3 separate regions of the Homo sapiens genome follow, and all the other regions are linked to region 1. The links come from fine-mapping of genetic effects on gene expression. A gene starts in region 1. Each other region holds a variant in brackets. All regions are shown on one strand. Distances are between the middles of the regions.

Evidence for each region.
Region 2: its variant is fine-mapped to the expression of PIP4K2B in esophagus muscle (GTEx, PIP 0.91).
Region 3: its variant is fine-mapped to the expression of PIP4K2B in whole blood (TOPMed, PIP 0.98). The same link has a PIP of 0.9 or more in thyroid and tibial nerve.

Annotation. Positions count from the first base shown.
Region 1 is chr17:38,795,064-38,803,241 of GRCh38, forward strand. PIP4K2B (phosphatidylinositol-5-phosphate 4-kinase type 2 beta) reads right to left here and starts at 4,493. Exons shown (of 10, transcript NM_003559.5): 1 at 4,203-4,493. The coding sequence starts at 4,361. CWC25 (CWC25 spliceosome associated protein) reads right to left here. Exons shown (of 10, transcript NM_017748.5): 9 at 7,637-7,798; 10 at 5,378-7,143. The coding sequence ends at 7,029. RefSeq lists an enhancer at 3,670-4,488.
Region 2 is chr17:38,755,989-38,764,166 of GRCh38, forward strand. It overlaps PSMB3 (proteasome 20S subunit beta 3), which reads left to right. Exons shown (of 6, transcript NM_002795.4): 3 at 1-2; 4 at 4,443-4,620; 5 at 6,423-6,517; 6 at 8,131-8,178. Among named protein-coding and RNA genes, the nearest start is that of PSMB3, 7.3 kb to the left of the region's middle. The variant C/T (reference allele first, on the strand shown) is at 3,649.
Region 3 is chr17:38,819,046-38,827,223 of GRCh38, forward strand. CWC25 (CWC25 spliceosome associated protein) reads right to left here and starts at 6,276. Exons shown (of 10, transcript NM_017748.5): 1 at 6,121-6,276; 2 at 1,856-2,028. The coding sequence starts at 6,138. MIR4727 (microRNA 4727) reads left to right here and starts at 6,793; the gene lies at 6,793-6,847. RefSeq lists an enhancer at 4,984-5,615. The variant A/G (reference allele first, on the strand shown) is at 4,924.

The DNA of each region.
Region 1 (8,178 bases):
CACTCCAGCCAGGGCGACAGAGCAAAACTCCATCTCAAAAAAAAAAAAAAAAAAAAAAAAAGAAAAATGAAAAAGACAACTCAATGAATAGGATAAAATATTTGCAAATCATATATCTGATAAGGGACCTGTATCTAGAATATAAAAAGAATTCTTGTAACTCAATAATAAGAAGATAACCCAATTTAATAATGGGCAAAAAGATCTTTGTAAATGGGCAAAAAATTTAATAGACATTCTCCAAAGAAAAGATACCAATGAAGGCTGGGGATGTGGCTCATGCCTGCAATCCCAGTCCTTTGGGAGGCCAAGGCGGGAGGACCACTTGAGGCCAGGAGTTCAGGACCAGCCTCGGCAACAAAGCGAGACCCTGTCTCTACAACAACAACAAAAAGAAAATGTACAGGCCAGGCACAGTGGCTCACACCTGTAATCCCAGCACTCTGGGAAGCCAAGGCAGGTGGATCACCTGAGGTTAGGAGTTTGAGATCAGCCTGGACAACATGGTAAAACTCCATATCTACTAAGAATACAAAAGTTAGCTGGGTGTGGTGGCAGGCACCTGTAATCCGAGGTACTTGGGAGGCTGAGGCAGGAGAATCGCTTGAACCAAGGAGGCGGAGGTTACAGTGAACTGAGATTGTGGCACTAAACTCCAGCCTGGGCGACAGAGCAAGACTCTGTCTCAAGAAAAAAAAAAAAAGAAAAGAATATGTACAAATGGCCAGTAAGTACATGAAAAAATGCTCAACATCATTAGTTATCACAGAAATGCCAATCAAAGTCACAATGAGGCCGGGTGCGATGGCTCATGCCTGTAATCCCAGCACTTTGGGAGGCCGAGGCAGGTGGATCACCTGAGGTCAGGAGTTTGAGACAAGCCTGGCCGACATGGTGAAACCTTGTCTCTACTAAAATAAAAAAATTAGCCACGTGTGGTGGCAGGCATCTGTAATCCCAGCTACTGAGGAGGCTGAAGCAGGAGAATTGCTTGAACCCGGGAGGTGGAGGTTGCGGTGAGCCGAGATTGCACCACTGCACTCCAGCCTGGGTGACGGAGTGAGACTCCATCACAAAAACAAACAAACAAACAAAATCACAATGAGATACGAATTCACACCCAACAGAATGGCTTTAATAACTTTAAAAAGACAATAACAAGTGTTGACAAGGATGCAGATACTGGAACTCTTATACACTGCTGGTAGACATGTAAAATGGTACAGCCACTTTAGAGAACAGTTTGGCAGTTTCTCAAATGGTTAAATACAGAGTCACCATCAACTGCTCCTGCTCCTCTGATCCCTGTGGTAAGGCTTCACACATACCTGGTTCTTAAAATGGCCAACAAGTATCAAGTCAGGTCTACCTCCCATGGTCTCCATGCTCCTCTCTGAGGCCATCTCTTCCCTAATTCCAAACCCTCGGAACTGTATTTCATCCACTAAAACACTGGTTTTTGCTCTTCACTAGTTCTTCCCTGACAGGTGCAAAGTCTTCTGATTTTTCTCCTTGTTTCCTACACATTCTTCCTCCACAAAATCCATGGGCTCTTGTCCATGAGAGCAGCTCCTGTGACAACACCAAGTTCAAAGTCCTCTCTTTTTCCACCTAGAAGTAAACTAATCACCTCATGAAAGGGTAACTAACTTCTGCTGTAGATAAAGACATATCCATCCTTCCTATCTGAAACACCATTAGCCACAGACCAGCATGCCTAAATGCCTAAACAGGTGAGAAACTAAAGAAAAGGTGGTATCTGAAATCTCAGATGACAAAATGTTACAAAGTAGGCTTTTTTTGAAGGGAGGAAATCTCCAAAAAAGTGCAGCAGTCCACCGAGGGCAATGTGGTCCTGATCCCTTAGACGAGTGCAAGATTACACTCTTCTTCTAGGCAGATGTCTCAGTTCCCAAATGGGGACACTGAAGTATCAGACCTTACTGCAGACCAGGATGAAGCAATAAAACTTACGACTAACTGGCCTCTGAAGCTTAGCCTGTCCAGGGCAGTGGTGGGAAGTTCCCATGAGATGCCTGTTCATTATGTCCAGAGGCACGGATCTTGCTTAAAGTCAATGCCTTTCCAACTAGCCCCTCAAACAAACTTTCAACTTAAAGTTAGCAAAGAAAAAAGATGACCACTTTGTCCAACAGAGTAGGACTCACAGGACTCCTGACTCGTGATACCTAACCATCAGCTATTGAGAAACTTCATAACCACATATGGACAGACTCATGCCTGCCTATCGGAACACCATGCATCACACACACTCCCAGGACCTGACATGCATAGGCGTATAACCCAGAGCATATATTCACCTTCTCTAACCGGACTATACTTCGCATCTATCCTGAGACTTGGCTGAGGGAGAGGAAAAGAAACAGGAGGCAAAGAAAACAAGACCAGCCACTCAGGCACCACCCTTGGCCGATACAGTCCCATGGTGCTAGACAATAAGCGACATCTCTTGCTGTAACCACAGGCAAGCTAATCCTCCACCTGAGGCCTCCTTTTCTTCATGTGTAAAATAAGGGACCCAAGGTTCATTGCAGCTAGCTGTAATACTCCTGACTCTCAGGCCTCTACCAGTTCTCTACAGACAGGTTGCTTTCTGTGAGAAACAGAACCAGCAGAGAGAGGCCTGGTAGAGTGAGAAGCAGGATGCAGAACAAAATCAAGGATTGACTTCCAGAAAGGGACATGGGGTTCATATTCTGATCACCCAGTTTCCCTAGAAATGTTGTCAGATGACCCCTGGGACAGCAGGAAGACCGAGTAACAAACTGGGCTGGATTGTTGGCCCGAAGCAGCTCCTAGAGGTCTGGGCATTATACCACTGGTACTCGCTATCCTGGCAGGACCCTCACTAACACCAGTGATGACAGTGAAAACAGTAACCTGCCCAAGACCAAGAAACCACAGAGACCTCAATTTACACATGCACTTTCCTAAATGACAGGTCAAGATCTAAAACCCTAGCTCAGATTACGGTTCATCGATCTCCACCCAAAGGCACCTTCAGCTCCTCTGCCAAAGCAATGCAAAGTCTTGCTGGCCCTCTTTGTCATCGCTTGGTCTTGTGAGCAATTTCAAGCACTCACAAGTGAACCTAAAGAACTGAAATCCACAGGAAACCCAAGCTTGATCCTCCTTATTCCAAAATTCTAGTTAGTGAAGTTGGTGTTTCGGGTCCTTTTACTTCCTCTGCTCATTCCTAGTGTGGGGATTCATAAAGAAATGGTCAGAAGGCAAAGAGCAAGTGGTTGGAAGAGGGAGAATAAAGACCCTGAACAAACACCACATAAACAGTCTTCCAGCTTAAACTGTCAGGATCCAACTTCCTGGCAGGGGCTGTTGAACAATCTCAAAGCACCCTAAGGACCCAGGGGACCTATCTCTCCTATCTAGGACCATAATCACTATGCATCATCACAACATTGCAGCCACACAACAGATAAGTCAACATCTTTAAAATGATCACCTTCAAAAACTATGGGAAGACATATTATTTCTACTATGAATAGTCCCTCCTTATAACCAGGCATCCTCTTCTCTCAAATGGTTAATAGCCATTCTTTCTTCTCCCTAACCCAGAGAGACCCAGGTGAAGTGTCTGGTTCAAGGAAGCCTGTGCTTCTCCAGTTGATACATCTTGTTCAAGAGGGAAAAAAAAGGAAACCCAGGGTGGAGTTCTACATTCAAAGGTAAGGAGGCCTGGAGGATGGAAGAATTTGAGCAGCCACAACAACCAAACGATCAGAAAGAGAGGACTATTTGGGCAGACCACTGCTACTTGACAGAGCTGGCAGCCGGCTGTAAGGAACAAGGGGGAATATACACCCTCACAAACAGGATGAGGGGGGAGGAGGAGAAGCAGGGATGAAAGCGACTCCACTGCACTGAGGCCTTGCCTTTGCGCTCCATGGGCTGCCCCAAGCGAGCACGCCACACGCAGGAAGCCAGAAGGGCTGGAGGGAAGGGGAGGTGGCGACGGCAGACCACAGAGACACCAGGCCTCGCGTGGCGTGCGGGGAGTGCACACGGGGCCGAAAGGCGTGCAAGGGTGGGGTGGGCGTGCAAGTGGCTTGGCGAGGGGTGGCAGGCGTCACCGGCAGGGCCTGCGGGGCAAGGGCCCAGGGCTGCAGGGGGCGTGGGAGCGCGCGGGGCCGCGCTCAGAGGGGCGCGCAGGAGCTGGTTACCGTGTGGTTCACCCCCCACATCAGGACGCTGAGGATCGGCTCGCTGGCCCGGAATAGCTTCACTTTCTGGCACACGAAATGCTTCTTCTTGGTCTTGGTCTTGCTGGCGCTGAGCGGCGCCACCGCCACCGCCGTGGTGCTGGTGCAGTTGGACGACATGCCCGGGGCGGCGGCGGCGGCGGCGAAAGAGGGGGGCGGCGGAGACAGCGCACAAGCCAGCGGCCTCAGGCCTCCCCCGGACCGATCCCCACCCCCGCTCCCTCACCGCGCCATGGTCGCGCCCGTCCCGTTACCTCCCACCCCGCCCCGGTGGTTCCGTCCGCCCCACGCCCCGCCCTCCCGCCCCGCCCCGGGGAGCCCGCCGGCCCGCTCCGCACCCCGCCCCCGGGCGGTGCAGCCGCCCTGCAGTCCCCTGGCCCCGTCCTCCCCGTCCGCGTGGTACGGCCCGTCCCGGGGAGGCAGCGGCCGCCCCGCCCGCCCCTCCTCCCCGGGCCTGACAGAAACCCGCCTGGCCTCCGAACGCCTCGGGGCCCCGTGCCGGAGCCGGAAGGGGAGGAGGGCTGGGCAGGCGTCGCTGTGGACCGCGGGAGGGGCTCCCCGCCCGGGCCCCCCAACGCCAGGGTTTGGCTCTTTCCCGCAACCCGAATGCCAAGATGGCGGCGATGCCACCGCTCCGGAAGGGAAGGAGGGACGGGAATGCGAGGAGGGCGGGACGTACCATGCCCACCCCGGGGGAGAGGAGGGACGCAGCAAGGGGAAGAGAAAGTCCAGCCTAGAAAGCCAAGGAACGCCCCCTCGCTCCACCTAAGCGTGGATCTGCCCACTCTGCTGGGCCCCGGGCGCGCTCCACCCGCGGGGCACGCCCCTTGCCCCCAGGGCCAATGAGAGAAGCAGGCCAGGAACACTGGTTTTTATGAATGGGCCCCGCGCCCACCCACCTGCTGCCTGTTCTCCCCGCAAAGGGTCAGAGCTCAGAGGCCGCCAGCACCTTCAGACACCTATCCCACTAATCGTCTTACTCTGGCTCATTTCGTAAAATCTTTGAGTAAACTGCCCCACGCTTTGTTACATAATTCTCAGATGAGGGATCTCCATATATTCGACACAAATTACAGGTCAACGTTGTTCTTTCTGCATGGAAATTCGTAAACACGGTACTCCACAGGTGGTCGCTCTTTAAACAGTTACAAAAATAAATGTGGCCTTTATTACCAATTATAAAATAAACATAATTAACCCCGGCATAATGAAGTGATTAAATGAATAAAAACGTATGTTACATTCTCTAGGGAAAGATCGGGTTTCAAGCATTACAGTGCCTGGCATCATAAGTGTTCAAAAACAGAAATCCAAATACATTTTAAGCAGAATTAGGAATTAGCAGAACAAGGAAATCGCCCAGCTAATGTGCGGGTCAAGAGGGCCTAGGAGTTCACTGGTCAAATGAGGGCTTCTGGTGAAAGAATAGAGAAGGGAAAAGGAGTAAAGACAGGAGAGTGGCCCCTCGAGGGTTTTGTTTTGTTGCTGTTGTTTTTTGAGACGGAATCTCGCTCTGTCACCCAGGCTGGAGTGCGGTGGCACAATCTCGGCTCACTGCAAGCTCCGCCTCCTGGGTTCACGCCATTCTCCTGCCTCAGCCTCCCGAGTAGCTGGGACTACAGGCGCCCGCCACCACGCCCGGCTAATTTTTTGTATTTTTTTAGTAGAGACGGGGTTTCACCGTGTTCGCCAGGATGGTCTCGATCTCCTGACCTCGTGATCCGCCCACCTCAGCCTCCCAAAGTGCTGAGATTACAGGTGTGAGCCACCGCGCCCAGCCTGTTTTTTGTTTTTTTTTTAGTACCTGACTGAAAGAGACTAGCAAACAACTCCTGAAAATCTGTAATTGTAGTAAGGTTACTACACGGTAAGAAGTGAAGCCGCAAAATAAAAACTTCCATTTTATTTTCCTTTAGGAGCCATGGAGCATATTGGCAATTTGGTTCTGACTCCTAAAATCATTTTACTATACCTTTACACTGCCTACATTGGAGACTGCAAGCAGTGGAAAAGAATAGATACTCCAGATCTCGTCGATAAACCCAGGCTCCTCCTAAACCAGCCAGATTCAGAGAGAAAAACGAGCTGGCCTGCCTTATTGTATTACTTGCCATCAAGGTTCAATGTGGTTCTATTACCCAGTAAAGTCATTGACCAAACAAGGTATTTTCACAAAGCTAACCTTTTTTAAAAGCATGTAAAAATTGTACATTTGTACATATACGCATTACAATTTTACATCCAAAGATCAAATAGTTAACAGTTCATTTAGGGCTTTTTGTATTGTTTGATTTTCCAGATTCTGTCACTCCCTTGGCTTTGACCTAACCTGACATCATTCTGTCACATTATCTTCTAAATCAAGTAAACGTTCATTTGTCTCAGTAAGCACAATCTATCTGGGTGACACCAGAGAGGTTTCTGAAGGGTCTGGTGTACGCTGAGGCAGTGAAATAGGTCTGTTGGCACAGGTAAGAAGGAAGTGGCATGATAAACATCACAACCCCAGGGAACAGCCTTCCAGAGTGGCACAAGCACTCCCACCGAGATGGTCCAGTGCCCACCCGTTAAAGAGTCAAAACCCAAAGTTACTGAGTGTCCCACAAAGCAAGTCACACTAGCTCTCAAAGGAAGTGAGCTGTTTCAGGACTCAATGAAGCAGGGTCACTTTGAACACTGGTGGTTTGACATCTGTGAAAGAAGTCATTTGAACTCTTATAAAGAGAATTAAGGGGTCAGCAGCTTCCCTGGAAAATGCAGGAAAACCAATAAGAGAGGGGACAGTTTTCATCTTTTCATAAAGTTCTTCTCCAGAGCTACCGAAGTTCTCTGTAAAGAGTAGATATTCCGCTTCACCCGATCCTCCAGGGAGGAAGTAGATGCACTCTCCAGCTTCATGCGGCTAGGAAGAGAAGACAGGCAAATGCAAGTCAAAAACATTTTCAATCAGTCAACTATTCTGGCAGCTTCAGAAGAAATGGGTTGTTAGCCATAGAGCAGCTGTAAAAACACAACCTCTTTTAAGCTCCCATAGATAACTTTCGAGTGACTCCACCTGGAACCAAATGTTTTTAAACCAGTGTCCATAAGGGAAAATGTATCTGTTTTGGAAAATAAGTCAAAGCCTCATTGGAAAAAGGCTTCCTGGGCCATGAATTCTTATTAAAAAGGAAGGTCAAGGAATTTCAATGATTTAGAAAATACCAAATTCACTTCTCCTCCCCTCAAATGAAAAACATCCCACTGTGTGGTCAGAAAGGAAGAGTAGTAGCCAAGGTGGTCTGAAGGCTGGGCTCCATGTGCAAACACAGAAACACTGGAACGGGAACCAGCTGCCAGCCTGCCTCTTAAGACCTTCCCCATGAAAGACCCTGGCAGGAAGAAGATGCACTCACTGGATGAACTTCCCATCCCGGGAGTCCAGCTTCTCTAGCCTCTGCTCCCGTTCCTCATCCTTAGCATGCCTCTTGAGGATGTTCAGTCTCTCCTCCTCCCTCCATTTGGCGTTTTCCATCATCTCTTGCCGTTTTCGCTCTAATTCCTCTGCAGAGAGTTTTCTGTTGAGCACAGAAACCATACGATCAGGTCTCTTCCAGCAAAAAAACCAGAAGCAGCACAAGAAGCACAGAAGCCAGGTGGGACCCCAAGCTCTCCAGTTCACTGCTCTCTCCAAGTGCAAGGCCAGCCTGAGTTCCCTTCTAACGTCCTGGTCAGGAGGTTTCATCCAAATTTCAAAGGCTTTTAGTAAAGTATTCCATAATCTCACTCAGTAATCTCTAGAGTGATTATTCTGAAATATGAAATATGAAATAAATTGGGAACTCATCAGGAACCTAAACTTGTAGCAATTATATCCCAATGGTTTGCTCAACAATTGACAGAAGAACAGAAGACTAGGTTATCCATGTAACTGTTAACATCTACCATCTAACTACCC
Region 2 (8,178 bases), 39 kb before region 1:
CGGTGAGTGCAAGTGTAGCTAGCACTGAGGGAATGCAGACATCTTTGAATGTAGTATGGAGTAGGTACTGAGGAAGAGGACTCTCCTTGTTTTTCCATCTCTTATTTGCAGGATAATATCCTTATTTTATGGGTGTGTTTTCTTTGGGCCTGTCTGGCAACCAGATAGGAAAGAAAATACTTATGTTGGAAGAAGGCAAGGAATGCACATAGCAGATAAATTTGCATCTAGGCAAAAGAGTTAGTCCCACCAGAGTGTTCTGGGGTCTCCCAGCAGGAGCCACTCTTGCCCTAGAGCTATTCTGTCAGCACTGGCTTCTTGGGAATAGCAGGGAGCCTAGGAATGGGGTGTTCATTTTCGTCAGTTCTCCTTGAGGGCTTTATGGTGAGAAACAAGGGGCCTAACTGTAGAATTTAGTGCAGAAATCTAGGATGGAATTGAAAGGAAACCCTGTGGGTGCTTTCTACCTCTGGGCAAACCTGGGTGGCCAGAATATAAGTTGAGCTCTCTTTTTCTTTTTTTTTTGAGACGGAGTCTTGCTCTGTCACCCAGGCTGGAGTGCAGTGGCGTGATCTCGGCTCACTGCAACCTCCACCTCCCAGGTTCAATCGATTCTTCTGCCTCAGCCTGCCATGTAGCTGGGACCACAGGTCCATATCACCACACCCGGCTAATTTTTGTATTTTCAGTAGAGACAGAGTTTCAACATGTGGGTCAGGCTGGTCTCGAACTCCTGACCTCAGGTGATCCACCTACCTTGGCCTCCCAAAGTCCTATTATAGGCATGAGCCACCATGCCTGGCCTGATCTCTTTTTTTTTCTTTTCTTTTAACTTTTTATTTTGAAGTAATTTTTGTAATTTGTAAAAATACCCTTTAGCTTTCAAAAACTTTTTCTTTTTTTTTTTTTGAGATGGTGTCTTGCTCTGTCGCCCTGGTGTGCAATCACGGCTCACTGCAATCTCCACCTCCCGGGTCCAAGTGATTTTCCTGCCTCAGCCTCCTGAGTAGCTGGGATTACAGGTGTGTGCCATCACACCTGGCTAATTTTTTTTTTTTTTTTTTTTTTTTTTTAGTAGAGACAAGGTTTCACCACGCTGGTCGGGCTGGTCTTGAACTCCTGACCTCAACTGATCTACTGCCTCCGCTTCTCAAAGTGCTGGGATTACAGGCATGAGCCACTGCGCCCTGCAAAAAGTCTTATAAAGTTGTAACAATTAACTCATATTTGGATGTATATTAAATGGCTTGCTGGGCGTGGTGGCTCATGCCTGTAATCCCAGTACTTTGGGAGGCCAAGGAAGGTGGATCACTTGAGGTCAGGAGTTCGAGACCAGCCTGGTCAACATGGTGAAACCTCATCTCTACTAAAAATACAAAAATTAGCTGGGTGTGGTGGTGCACGCCTGTAATCCCAGCCACTCGGGAAGCTGAAGCATGAGAATTGTTGAACTTGGGAGGCAGAGGTTGTAGTGAGCCAAGATCATGCCACTGTACTCCAGCCTTGGTGACAGAGTGAGACTTAGTCTCAAAAGAAATAAAAAATAGGTCGGGCGTGGTGGCTCATGCCTGTAATCCCAGCACTTTGGGAGGCCAAGGTGGGCGGATCACGAGGTCAGGAGATCAAGACCATCCTGGTCAACATGGTGAAACCCCATCTCTAATAAAAATGCAAAAATTAGCTGGGCGTGGTGGCACACACCGGTAATCCCAGCTACTTGGGAAGCTGAGGCAGGAGAATCGCTTGAACCTGGGTGGTGGAGGTTGCTGTGAGCAACTTGCCTCAGCCTCCTGAGTAGCTGGGATTATAGGCGCCTGCCACTGCACCTGGCTAATTTTTTAATTTTTAGTAGAGACAAGGTTTCATCATGTTGGCCAGGCTGGTCTCAAACTCATGACCTCATGATCCGCCCACCTCAGCCTCCCAAAGTGCTGGGATTACAAGCATGAACCACTGCGCCCAGCCAACGAAAAAAAAAGTTAATAATATCTGGGATTATCTGGATAAGAACCTTAAAACCAAATACTATAACACAGCTCAGGGCCTGTGTTTGAACTTCCTATTATGCTGATGCCGAGTTACCATCTGAAGTAACTTTTACTGCAGTGTTTCAGACAGAGGTGCGTAGATGGTATCTCTGGGGTCCAGATTTTAAAAAGGGTCTGGACATTGCTCAGGTTTGCAGTTCAATGCCTCAGCCTGTCCTGCCAGAAAAATCACTGATTTCAGATGGGCTCATAGAGGAAGCTCCCGTCAATAGTAGCTAAGAATCCAGAATTTTTCAGGTCACCTAATGTATTTTTTTTCTTTTCAATAAGAGTAAGACATTTATTTTATTATTTTTATTTTTTATTTTATTATTATTATTTTTTTGAGAGTTTCACTCTTTCGCCCAGGCTGGAGTGCAGTGGTGCGATCATGGCTCACTGCAACCTTTGCCTCCTGGGTGCAAGCAATCCTCCTGCCTCAGCCTCCCAAGTAGCTGGGACCATAGGTGCATGCCACCATGCCTGGCTAATTTTTAAATTTTTTTGTAGAGACAGGGGTCTCACTTTGTTGCCCAGGTTGGTCTTGAATGCCTAGGCTCAAGCAGTCCTCCAGCCTTGGCCTCCTCCCTAAGTGCTGAGATTACAAACGTCAGCCATCATGCCTGGCCTAAAAAAGTTATTTTCATGGTGGCTCATGCCTGTAATCTTGAACTGTGCGTGTGTATGTGTGTGTGTTTCTATTTAGAGCTATAACTGAAGATCATGCCCTTAGAAATGACTGTGATCCAGGCCTGGAGCATTGGCTCACGCCTGTAATCCCAGCACTTTGGGAGGCCGAGGTGGGTGGATCACAAGGTCAGGAGATTGAGACCATCCTGGCTAACACGGTGAAACCCCGTCTGTACTAAAAATACAAAACATTAGCTGGGCATGGTGGCGGGCACCTGTAGTCCCAGCTACTCAGGAGGCTGAGGCAGGAGAATGGCTCGAACCCAGGAGGCAGAGCTTGCAGTGAGCCAAGATCGCACCACTGCACTCCAGCCTGGGCGACAGAGCAAGACTGTCTCAAAAAAAGAAAGAAAGAAAGAAATGACTGTGATCCAATAAGACATATGGATAACGTCTCTTTTACTGACTCTTTCTACTGAGGATATTGGCCATTTGTTATTTGGTATTTTATAGATATTCCTTACCTTATAAACTGTTATAAGTTTAAAATATTGTAAGTTGAAATGGGTATTTTGTAGACATAGGATGCAAATACACAAAACACTATATCCAAAAATTGCTCACAGCAGAACAGTGTAAAGTATCTGTTGTTTCCTCTGGTGATTGTGTGGCTGACTGGGAGCTGCGGCTCATTGTCACTGCCCAGCATCAGGAGTGGGTTTGGTACCACAAATTGCTAGCCTGGGAAAAGATCAAATTTCAAAGCATAGTTTCCACTGAATGCCTGTTGCTTTTGCACCATCATAAAGTTGAAAAATTTTAAGTTGAACCATCATAAGTCAGGGACCATCATCTGTACATAAAGATCCCTAAGACTGATTTTTCTTTTTTTTTTTTCTTTTCTTTTCTTTTTTTCTGAGATGGAGTCTCGCTCTGTCGCTCAGGCTGGAGTGCAGTGGCGCGATCTCGGCTCACTGCAAGCTCCGCCTCC[C/T]GGGTTCATGCCATTCTCCTGCCTCAGCCTCCTGAGTAGCTGGGACTATAGTCACCCGCCACCATGCCCAGCTAATTTTTTTTTGTATATTTAGTAGAGAGGGGGTTTCACCGTGTTAGCCAGGAAGGTCTCGATCTCCTGACCTGGTGATCCACCCACCTCGGCCTCCCAAAGTGCTGAGATTACAGGTGTGAGCCACCGCGCCTGGCCCAAGACTGATTTTTCTTAAAGATCAGTGTCTAGAACAAGTTTCTGATGAGCTGCCATTTCCTTTTGACAATGAGAGTAACCCAGCCACTGAGTATCCCTCTTTGCCTTGCCTGCTAGGGGGCTCAAAACAAAACTTTGTGTTCAGTCTGAGTTATCTTGTATTATGTTTTAATGGTTTAGTTTTATTTTTCAGTGTTTTTCATATAAACTGCCTCCAATCTTTTCTCTAAAGGAGTAGAGGTATAAACATACACATAGAGGACTGAGTGATGGTAGGACCTTGGGTGAGGAGAGGGAGGATTAGAAGAAAACAATTCTGAAAGAAAGAAGGAGCACAAGAGGGTCAGAGGTGAGAAGGATAGAAAGGTAAGTGTTGAAGAAAAGAAAGTGGAAAAGTCTTAGAATATTTCTAGCTGGCAGGAGAAGGGAGAGGGAGCTGGCCTCAGGGAAAGGTGATCTTCCTAAACAGGTCCTCCATTTCCCTTTGGGTCTGGGTCTAGGCCGGGGCCTTGTCTGAATAGGCTTAAACATGAAAGCGAGCGTTCTTGAGTTCTGGTTTCTCTCTCTGATGCTGGCCCCCACAGGTTTGGCCCTTACTACACTGAGCCAGTCATTGCCGGGTTGGACCCGAAGACCTTTAAGCCCTTCATTTGCTCTCTAGACCTCATCGGCTGCCCCATGGTGACTGATGACTTTGTGGTCAGTGGCACCTGCGCCGAACAAATGTACGGAATGTGTGAGTCCCTCTGGGAGCCCAACATGGTACGTTGGTGGCATGGAGAGGGGCTGGGCTCTGAGTTACCCACCCTTGGTCATTAGGAAAAAAGTGTGTTTATGTGGCAGGTAATGGGGAGAATGGTGCAGGTGGGAGAGAAAGCCACAGCTGCTGCTCCTTGGAAGGGTATCCAGAAATTCCATCTGCCAGGCTGGCTGGCTGGCTCCAGAGGAGAGCATCTTCTGTTAGGAGACCACAGTTAGATATTTGCCACAGCAGTAAGAATTCCTTACATTGGGTTTACAGGGTTCTCGCATCCATTCACTGAGCAAACATTTAACTCAGTGTAGGGTTAGAGGCAGCTCAACAGGTTGTCTGGGTTGGCAACCTGGATCCACCCACCACCTTAGTTATTGTTCTTGGAGAAGCCAGTTTCCCTCTCTGCCTCCACTACCTTGACTGTAAAATGAGGATAAAAAAGTCTGCCTTAGAAGTGGTGCTGAGGAAGCCGGGCGCGGTGGCTCACGCCTGTAATCCCAGCACTTTGGGAGGCTGAGGCAAGCAGATCACCTGAGGTTTGGAGCTCAGGACCAGCCTGACCAACATGGAGAAACCCCGTCTCTACTAAAAAAAAAGTTAAATTAGCCGGGCATGGTGGTGCATGCCTGTAATCCCAGCTACTCGGGAGGCTGAGGAGAATCGCTTGAGCCTGGGAGGCGGAGGTTGCGGTGAACAAAGATCGTGCCATTGCACTCCAGCCTGGGCAACAAGAGCTAAACTCCGTCTCAAAAAAAAAAAAAAAAAAGTGGTGCTGAGGAAAACAAATGAGTATATGTGCTGCCGAAGCGAGCACAAAAACAAGTGAGAAGAGATGAGATAGTGCTTGACGGCGAGGGTCGGCTGTCGTTATTAAGTGCCAGCTCTTCCGGCCACTGGGGAAAGCAGGTACAGTCTGCTTTCAAGGGCCCACTGCAGTCCAGTGAAGCAAGACACATCCAAATACCTGTTGAACTGCAGTTTGTTGGGAAGAGGAGGAAAGAAAGGGTCTGGGGGCAAAGGTACAGGAAGGGGCAGGTATGCTCAGTGACTGGAGAGCTGAGCCTGGCTGGAGTGTGGGTTAAACATGGGGAGAAATGATGCTGGAGACTGAGATGAGACCTCAAAGGGCCTTGAATGCCATGCCAAGGAGTTTGAACTCTGTCCTCTGCCATAGGAACCTAGGGAATCAGGTGCCTTTAGGTGGACGTGACAGGCTGTTACCGCCTGCAGGAGGCGCTGAGGTCCTGAGCAAAGACAGTGGCAGTGGGGAGGCAGGAAGGCAGCTGTCAAGGGGACTTAGTCACTTAAAACAGAAGCGAAGGATGTAGAGACAGAGGATGGCTGGGTTCTCCAGCTAGGCTAGCCAAGACAGAATGTAGAAGGAACAGGTTTGGGGGAAGTGGGTTTGTGGTTGGACAGGTTGGGTTTTGAGGTACCTGTTAAGATATCCAGGATCAGAGCCCATCAGACAGCTGCTAAAGCACACTGGAGCTAAATAGGGATTCTTCTCCCTATTTTACAGAGAAACTGAGGCTCAGTGAAGAGAGACATACTATTTGCCCAATGTCACACTGCTGATTAGTAAAAGAAATTCAGGGCTTGAAGTCTCTTTCACTTTCCTTTACATAATTCTGCTTCCTTCCAAGGAAGGAGCTGAGAGGGGCTTCCCACATCCTGGGAATCATCCCTTACTTCAGGCATGTCTTGGGGCCAGAGCTGGGAATCTTGAGCCTAGAAAAAAGAGAGTTAAGGGACCAGACCAAATCAGAGCCAGAGGCTGTGGTTTGAAGGGGTTCCACTCTGTTGGCAGGATCCGGATCACCTGTTTGAAACCATCTCCCAAGCCATGCTGAATGCTGTGGACCGGGATGCAGTGTCAGGCATGGGAGTCATTGTCCACATCATGTGAGTATGGGCTGGGAGAAGTCTAGAAGCTCTGCAGACACCCTGCCTCTCTCCCTTCTCCACGAGCATACACCCCATTTTCCCAGCCCCCTGGTCAGGTGTGAGATAAGAAAGGTGCTTTTGGCAGTCCTGGGTGAGCAAAAGTCCATGCCTCCCTATGGCTGGTAACTGGCAGCCTACCCAGCTTCCTCTGGCCTCTTGTCAGGTGAGGTTCTGTGACCCCGTGCTCACAAGAGACATTTCTTCCTTAACAATGTCTCCGAAGTCTCAGGGATCCGTGTTGGGGTGAGCCACAACAAAGCTACTGCAGATGGATTGAAATTCTAGGTGGCTCGCATCCTCTCTCCAGCCCAGATCTGTGTGATGTTCTGAGCTCTAGAGACCAATTTCCAAGCCTCAGCCAACTCCCTAAGTGCCATCCTCCTTGTCCTTTTACTTGTTTGGGGCCATCACCAGGAACCTGATTGGATAGAGTAGGAGGTATCCTTCCAACCACTTTCCTACATTGCAGGATAAGCATTTGGACCCTTTTGGGGGATAGCCTGCTTAATTACCGTGAAATAGTATTTGGCCAGGCGCGTTGGCTCACGCCTGTAATCCCAGCACTTTGGGAGGCTGAGGTGGGCAGATCACTTGAGGTCAGGAGTCTGAGACCAGCCTAACATGGCGAAACCCCGTTTCTACTAAAGATACATAAAATTAGCCAGACGTGGTGTCACGTGCCTGTAATCCCAGCTACTAGGGAGGCTGAGGAAGGAGAATTGCTTGAACCTGGGAGGCAGAGGTTGCAGTTAGTCAAGATCACGCCATTGCACTCCAGCCTGGGCAACACAGTGAGACTCTGTCTCAAAAAAAACAAAAACAAAAACAAAAAACCCAAAAAACAGAATTTACCACCGACGGTTTTTTTTTATGTTCTTTGGGGTGAAACACACCACACCTTCTCCTTCCTAAGTGGCTTGTTCTCTAGGCTTGGAGGAGCTTCTTCCCCCTTTTTTTTTTTTTTTTTTTTTTGAGATGGAGTCTCATTCTGTCGCCCAGGCTGGAGTGCAATGGCACTATCTCAGCTCACTGCAAACCTCTGCCTCCTGGGTTCAAGTGATTCTCCTGCCTCAGCCTCCTGAGTAGCTGGGATTACAGGCACGTGCCACCATGCCCAGCTAATTTTTGTATTTTTAGTAGAGACGGGGTTTCACCATGTTGGTCAGGCTGGTCTTGAACTCCTGACCTCGTGATCCGCCTGCCTCAGGCCTCCCAAAGTGCTGGGATTGCAAGCATGAGCCACCGCGCCCGGCCAAGCTCCTTCCCTTCTTTTGAGAGCTGTGAAGTCTGGCCCTGAATCATTTTCTGGGAAAGCCTCCCTGAGGTGGTTCCACCTGTGGAAAGTCGGCCCAGGTCTCTGTTCCTATCCCTCCTTCCTCACCACAGGCGGAGGAGATGAGCTAGCAGGAATGAACTAGAGCAGGATAGTTACACCTAGAGGCAGCGGGCAGCTATTTGTTCTGCTCCCTTGCCGCAGGGCTTGAGGGCTTGGTGCTGAGGGCCAGGAGAGCTAGTCACAGTCACGGTCCAGATGGGTAGAGATGTTTTCTTGTGATTTTCTCCCTCTGCAGCGAGAAGGACAAAATCACCACCAGGACACTGAAGGCCCGAATGGACTA
Region 3 (8,178 bases), 24 kb after region 1:
CAGAGTCTCACTCTGTCACCCAGGCCGAAGTCAGTGGCAAAATCATAGCTCACTGTAGCCTCGAACTCCTGGGCTCAAGCAATCCTCCTACCTCAGCCTCCCAAGTAGCTGGGACTACAGGCACATGCCACCATGCCCAGCTAACTTTTCCTTTCTTTCTTTTTTTTTTTTTGAGACGAAGTCTTACTCTGTCACCCAGGCTGGAGTGCAATGGCGTGATCTCAGCTCACTAAAACTTCCAACTCCTGAGTTCAAGTGATTCTCCTGCCTCAGCCTCCCGAGTAGCTGGGATTACAGGCATGTGCCACCATGCCTGGCTAATTTTTGGTTTTTTTTTTTTGAGACGGAGTCTCGCTCTGTCGCCAGGCTGGAGTACACTGGCGCAATCTCAGCTCACTGCAACCTCCACCTTCTGGGTTCAAGCGATTCTCCTGCCTTAGCTTCCCGAGTAGCTAGGACTACAAATGCATGCTACCACGCCCAGTTAATTTTTTTTTTTTTTTTTTAGTAGAGATGGGGTTTCACCGTGTTGGCCAGGCTGGTCTCGAAATCCTGACGTCAGGTGATCCGCCCACCTCGGCCTCCCAAAGTGCTAGATTACAGGCGTGAGCCACTGCACCCAGCCTCTATTTTTTTTTTGTTTGTTCGTTTTTTTGAGATGGAGTCTCAATCTGTCGCCCAGGCTGGAGTGCAGTGGCATGATCTCAGCTCACTGAAACTTCTGCCTCCCGGGTTCAAGCAATTCTCCTGCCTCGGCCTCCTGAGTAGCTGGGATTACCGCCACACCCAGCTAATTTTTGTATTTTAATAGAGACAGGGTTTTACCATGTTGGTCAGGCTGGTCTCGAACTCCTGACCTCAAGTGATCTGCCCGCCTCGGCCTTCCAAAGTGCTGGGATTACAGGCGTAAGCCATCGTGCCTGGCTAATTTTTTTCTATTGTTTTGTAGAGATGGGTTCCTACTACAGACTGGTCTAGAACTCCTGGCCTCAAGTGATCTGCCTGCCTCAGTCTCCCAAAGTGCTGGGATTATAGGCATAAGCCGCCACACTCAGCCTATATATTTTTAAACAGAGATGGAGCCTCACTACATTACCCAGACTGGTCTCAAACTCCTGGGCTCAAGTGATTTCTCAGCCTCCCAAAATACAGCAATTACAGGCATGAACCACCGCACCTAGTCCCCAGTTTTAGTCTATCTGTTATTTTATTTTATTCTGACTTAAGAATACACTGCATATTGTATGCTTTTTATTTTCTCAAACATATTTACTCCCATCTCCTTTTATGAGATGGATGGGGTAGTTATTATCTGCTACTCGTATCCTATATTATACAACAGGAAATTGAAGCAGGGTAAAATCTAGTGGCATTGGCCGTAATCACTCAGCTTTTATTGACAAGCATACCATCCACCTTCTCTCATGGGACCTCACTCCCTGCCCCCTGTCCCCGCCGACCCAAGCAAGCCTGAAATACATTAACAAAGGCAGGACTGCATCCTCAACATATGCTGAGAAGCAGGGTAGAGCAACCATCCTCCATCACGGTTATCAGCCATCTACTGTGAGCTCGGCTTACAGCAAGTCCTTACGTGTTATCTCATTTGATTCTCAACAAACCTTAAGAAGGCGTTGGGTATTATTACTCCCTGGTCCTACTGAAGTAACCAAGTCTCTCAAATTTGATCACAGTTCCACAGCTAGTACATGCAAAGCCAACCTTAGAATCCAGGTGAGTCTGGCATTACAACCCATGCCCTTAAGCACTCAGCCATTATACAACACTGGATGATGCATCTCAGGACAGCTCTGCAATTCCCTACACACAAGCGCACCCCCAGCTCCTCACTTACTTGACGGCCCCAACATCCTCCGCATAGCGCTGCATCTCTTCCCGGGCTCTCTCTTCTCGCAGCTCCCGCTGAAGCTCCTCAATCTTCTTCCGCTCAGCCTCATGCTTCTGCTCGGCCTTCCACACTTTCTCCACATTCCTGAGGGTCTGCGGGTGCCAGCTCTTCTTCAGATTCTGTGGTAAATAAAAAGAAGGTGATGATAATTCGGGGGGTGACTGAGTGGTGGGTATAACTAGCCCTGCCTCACCCACCCTTCCATACCCAAGGCAGGCGTGTGAGGGCAAGATGTCTTCAACAATGGCAAGGTTTTCTTCCAATAATCTCTCACACATCTAGAGGGGAAGGGGAGCTTGTTCAAGTGTATAAAGCTTCAGGACAGGTCGGGCGCAGTGGCTCACACCTGTAATCCCAGCACTTTGGGAGGCGGAGGCGGGAAGATCACTTGAGGTCAGGAGTTTTAGACCAGCCTGGCCAACATGATGAAACGCCTCTACTGAAAATACAAAAATTAGCTGGGCGTGGTGGCAGGTGCGCCTGTAGTCCCGGCTATTCAGCAGGCTGAGGCAGGAGAATCGCTTGAACCAAGAGGCGGAGGTTGCGGTGAGCCGAAACTGCGCTGCTGCACTACAGCCTGGGCGACAGAGCAAGACTCCGTCTCAAAACAACAAGAACAAGAACAAGAAAGCTTCAGGATAGAACGGGTCCTTCCTGAATTCCCTTCAAACAGTTTTAACCTTAAAAGCATACAAGTCATCCTTCCACTAGCCATACCTAAATCAGAGTTGGTGATGACAAGACAGGAGGAATGCAGTAATGAGCAGGAAGGCACATATTTTGAAAGAGAACAGAACTCATGCACTTCTGACAGTGGACATTCATTCTTTTTTTTTTTTTTTTAAAGTCTTACTCTGTCACCCAGGCTGGAGTGCAGCTATCTCGGCTGACTGCACCCTCCGCCTCCCGGGTGCCAGCAATTCTCCTGCCTCAGCCTCCTGAGTAGCTGGACTATAGGCACGTGCCACCATGCCTGGCTAATTTTTGTATTTTTTAGTAGAGATGGGGTTTCACCACATTGGCCAGGCTGGTCTCAAACGCCTGACCTCATGATCTGCCCGCAGTGGCCTCCCAAACTGCTGGGATTACAGGGGTGAGCCACCGTGCCCAGCCTTTTTTGTTTCTTGAGACGGAGTTTCACTCTTCTTGCCTAGGCTGGAGTACAATGGCAGGATCTCGGGTCACGGCAAACTCTGCCTCCTGGGTTCAAATGATTCTCCTGCCTCAGCCTCCTGAGTAGCTGGGATTACAGGCATGCGCCACCACACTCGGCTAATTTTGTATTTTTAGTAGAGATGGGGTTTCTCTATGTTGGTCAGGCTGGTCTCAAACTCTCGACCTCAGGTGATCCGCCTGCCTTGGCCTCTCAAAGTGCTGGGATTACAGGCATGAGCTACCGTGCCTGGCATGGACATTCATTCTTTGGAACTCAACCTACCTTAGCTTGGTCTACTTCACCTGCCCTAAACTTGCATGGTTTACAACCCACCCAGAATCTCTTTCAACTTTCCTTCCCAGGAATCTCTCCTTGGTTCTGATCTCCCCATTCACCCTCAAAGAACACTTCTCTCTCTCCTCCCCATCAGATACTGCTTTGGTTCACTTTCCCAATAATGAAATGTTCCCCAAAGTAAGTAATATCTAAAGACAATTGTAAACTAGCCTGGTGATGTGTGAAGGGGAGATGAGGGGGGTAGATTTCCAAACAGAGGGGAACAGTACAGACAAGTGCAGTCCTGGTGGTGAGAAAGAACATAGCAATAATTCAGTGTGGCTGGAGATGTGGCAAGCTGATGGTGCAGGGACGCAAGAAGAAGCCAAGTGAGAAAGGAGCAGAATAAGGGCCTTATAAGCCATGTAAAGGGATTACAGGCATGCGCCGCCACGCCTGGCCAATTTTTTTTTTTTTTTTTTGAGATGTCGCCCAGGCTGGAGTGCAGTGGCGCAATCTTGGCTCACTGCAAGCTCCACCTTCCAGGTTCACGCCATTCTCCTGCCTCAGCCTCCTGAGTAGCTGGGACTACAGACATCCGCCACCATGCCCAGCTAATTTTTTTTGTATTTTTAGTAGAGACGGGTTTCACCGTGTTAGCCATGATGGTCTCGATCTCCTGACCTCATGATCTGCCCGCCTTGGCCTCCCAAAGTGCTAGGATTACAGGTGTGAGCCACCACACCCAGCCTGACTCCAACTTTTTTTTTAACTTTTTTTTTTTTTTTTTTGAGACGAGGTCTTGCTCTGTCACGCAGGCTAGAGTGCAGTGGTGCAATCTTGGCTCACTGCAACCTCCACCTCCTGGGTTCAAGCGATTCTCCTGCCTCAGCCTCCCAAGTAGCTGGGATTACAGGCGCCCGCCACTGCTCCCAGCTAATTTTTGTATTTTTAGTAGAGACGGGGTTTCACCATCTTGGCCAAGCTGGTCTCAAATCCTGACCTCGTGACCCACCCGCCTCTGCCTCCCAAAGTGCTGGGATTACAGGCATGAGCCACTGCACCTGGCTGAGACTCCATCTTAAAAAAAAAAAAAGAAAAGAGAATGGACTGGAGAGGACCAGGAGACCAATTAAGAAAATAAGATCATGTCCACAAGGTACTTGGCATGTGGAAAATGTTCGGTCAATGAGAGCTCCCTTTTCTTCCTTTTCTCTTCCCCTCCTTGTCCTGCCTCTCCCCTTCGTCAGGTCATTCAGTTGGTTGGTTGTGGGTCAGTCCGTCAGTTGGTCTGACCATCCGTCCATCCTTCCGTCCTTCCTCCCTCACTCCCTCCCTCTTTCTCCCTCTAACCCTTCCCATCTTGTCCTCCCTGCCTCAAGCATAGATTATTTTGCTCCCCAGGGAGAAAATCTTCTGGAGTCATTTTTGGCTGTCACAACTGGTGGAGACGGGTGTTAGTGGATAGCTCCAGTCTAGTGGCTAGAGGCCAGTGATGCTGCTAAACATTCTACAATGCACAGGACAGCCCAACTACCACCACTACCACACACCCCCAAAGAATTATCTAGGCCAAACTGTC[A/G]AGAGCGCTAATGTTGAGAAACCCTGGATTAGAGCTTTCCTGTCCTTAAATGCAGTTATGTGAAGAATACACTAAATTGGATGAAACTAGATGGAGTCCTGGCACTCACTGTGATTGAGAACACATGACAAACTAATAGGTTTACTGGGCAGGCGGCTAAGCTGATCTACTTGCTGGTTCAATTAGCTCCACTTTCCGGAGGCTAGCATTTTCCCAACCTTGCCCCATGCTCTTGTGGGTACATTTACCCTATTTGGGGCCTTAGCGCTTTACAAATGAACGTTTCAGTTTAAGAGACATTGCCACATAACTTATATTAAGTGGTATGAATTCAAAAGCAAGCTCTGCCACTACAGATCAGAATCCAGCACTGAAGGAGGTGTGGAAGTCAGAAAGATGGACAGGAAGATCCCTTCAGGCTTAAAAAGGACCCCAGGGCCGGGCGCTGTGGCTAACCCTTGTAATCCTAGCACTCTGGGAGGCCGAGGCGGGCGGATCACTTGAGGTCGGCAGATCGAGACCAGCCTGACCAACATGGAGAAACCCTGTCTCTACTAAAAATACAAAATTAGCCGGGTGTGGTGGCGCATGCCTGTAATCCCAGCTACTCGGGAGGCTGAGGCAGGAGAATCGCTTGAACCCAGGAGGGAAAGGTTGCGGTCAGCCGAGATCGCGCCATGGCACTCCAGCCTGGGCAACAAGAAACTCCGTCTCAAAAAAATAAAAAATAAAAAACGACCCCAGGGCATGGCTTAGGGTAGGGAGAATGGGGCACAAACCACCCCTACTTCAGTCCAGGACATGACTCTGAACTCTCACCCAAGGAAGAGAGGTGTGTGGCAAGACAAGATATACAAAACAAAGTGTGGTGACACGTCCTCCATATCTACCTCCTTTCCTAGCCATGGCTCCATCCGCCCCCTCCCCGGTCTTCCCAGAATTTACAGCCGGTAGAGCCGCAGTCAACAAACACGCAAACACCACCTGTCACTGTTCGCGACACACCTCGGACTTTCCCAAATCTCAGTCCCACCCCTCCATTGCCCTAAGGATCCATCCCCTCTTCAGGGCAACGGCCTCCTCCCGGCGAAAGCAAAGCTGCGTTGCCATGGTTATCCACTCCTTCCTCTACCCCCACCCCCTGCCAATTTCCGTCCCGGCCTCAGTCCTCCCCCGCCCAGGCCTCCCTCCACTCACCAGGTCTCCGCCCCCCATGACGGTGGAGACGATTCCTCACTACGCGGATCTGGAAGATTTCGGGAGGATCAAGAGAAAACGTAGAGAAATAGTTCGGGGGCTACCTCGCGGGATCTAGTCCCAGGAGCCGTCAACTGCCAGTTTCACCACCGCTCTAGAGGTCACTTCCGGGAGGGCGTCATCTCACCGCGTCGGCGTCGCGGAACGATGACGTACAGGGCTCGGTCGCGCTTTGTGACGTTGGCGTTACTTGCAGATTTTGCAAAGGTCCGGGCTCCGCTGTCGAGGCCTTTGCTGTCGAGGTCTCATTTTGGCTGCTTCGGGTCGCCACGTTGCCTGATGTCCCAGACTCTCTGTTGAAACGCCACAACTCTGTTCAGTGATGGGTTGCCGTGGGCCTGTGCCCACGGCTGTGTTGCCATGGCAGCTCACCAGGGCATTCGGCTCAAAGCTCCACGTAGTCTCTGCTAGACCTAAGGTGGACCAGACTAGGCCTCCTCCCCTCACCCTGCACACACCCCCACGCTCCAGTTTTCCAAAACGGCTTTGCAAACTGGCGCTTTCCTCAGACCTTGACTCACAGCAAATCCCCTTATGCCAGGCCTATTTTACGAAGCTAAATAGAAACCATCAAATCGAAATTCCATCAGCTTCCGTTTGCCAAACTTTTAAAATCTGCCAGCTTCCACAGTGGCAGATTTTCCCATAGTGGGAAGCTGGCAGATTCCTTTCCCTTCAGTTACTATGTGTTTTTGGCATGTTTTTCTTTTTTCTTTTTCTTTTTCTTCTTCTCCCTTTGTTTTTGTTTTTTGAGAAGGAGTTTTGCTCTCCCAGGCTGCGGTCGAAGCTGACTGCAACCTCCGCCTCCCGGACAGCAATTCTCCTGCCTCAGCCTCCCAAGTCGCTGGGATTACAGGCGCCCGCCACCCGCCCGGCTAATTTTTGTATTTTTTGTAGAGACAGGGTTTCACCATGTTGCTCAGGCTTGTCTCGAATTTCGACCTCAAGTGATCTCCCCGCCTCAGCCTCCCAAAGTGTTGGGATTACAGACATAAGCCACCGCGCCTGGCTATTTTTATTTTTGTAGCAACAGGGTTTTGCCATCTTACCCAGGCTTGTCTCAAACTCCTGGACTCAAGCAATCCTCCTACCTCGGCCTCCTAAAGTGCTGGGATTACAGGTGTGAGCCACTGCGCCCGACCTGTTTTGTAATTTTCAGAATAGAAGTTTTGCACATCTTTTGTTAAATTTATTCTAAATGTTGTATTTTTTGTGATGCTATTTTATTTATTTATTTATTTATTTATTTATTTATTTATTTATTTATTTATTTATTTATTTCGAGACGGAATCTCACTCTGTTGCCCAGGCTGGAGTACAGTGGCGCAATACCAGCTCACTGCAACCTCCGCCTCCTGGGTTCAAGCGATTCTCCTGCCTCAGCCTCCCGAGTAGCTGGGATTACAGGCATACGCCACCACGACCTACTGATTTTTGTGTTTGTAGTAAAGATGGGATTTCACCGTGTTGGCCAGGCTGGTCTGGAACCCCTGACCTCAGGTGATCCGCCTACCTTGGCCTCCCAAAATGCAAGGATTACAGGCACCCGGCCTGTGATGCTATTTTAAATAAAATTTAAAAATTTTAATTTTCCAATTGTTTGCTACTAATAGATAAGAACGTGCTTTTGTATAGTAACCTTCTATTTTACAGGCTTGCTAAATTCACTTATTAGTTCTTATGGCTTTTTAAAAATACTTATTGCCCGGGCGCGGTGGCTCACTCCTGTAATCCCAGCACTTTGGGAGGCCGAGGCAGGTGGGTGGATCACCTGATGTTGGGAGTTTGAGACCAGCCTGGCCAACATGGAAAAACCCCATCCTACTAAAAATACAAAAATTAGCCGGGCGTGGTGGCGGGTGCCTGTAATCCCAGCTACTTGGGAGGCTGACACAAGAGAATCACTTGACCCTAGGAGGTGGAGGTTGCTGTGAGCCAAGATGGCACCACTGCACTATAGCCTGGGCGACAAGAGTGAGACTTTGTCTCAAAAAAAAC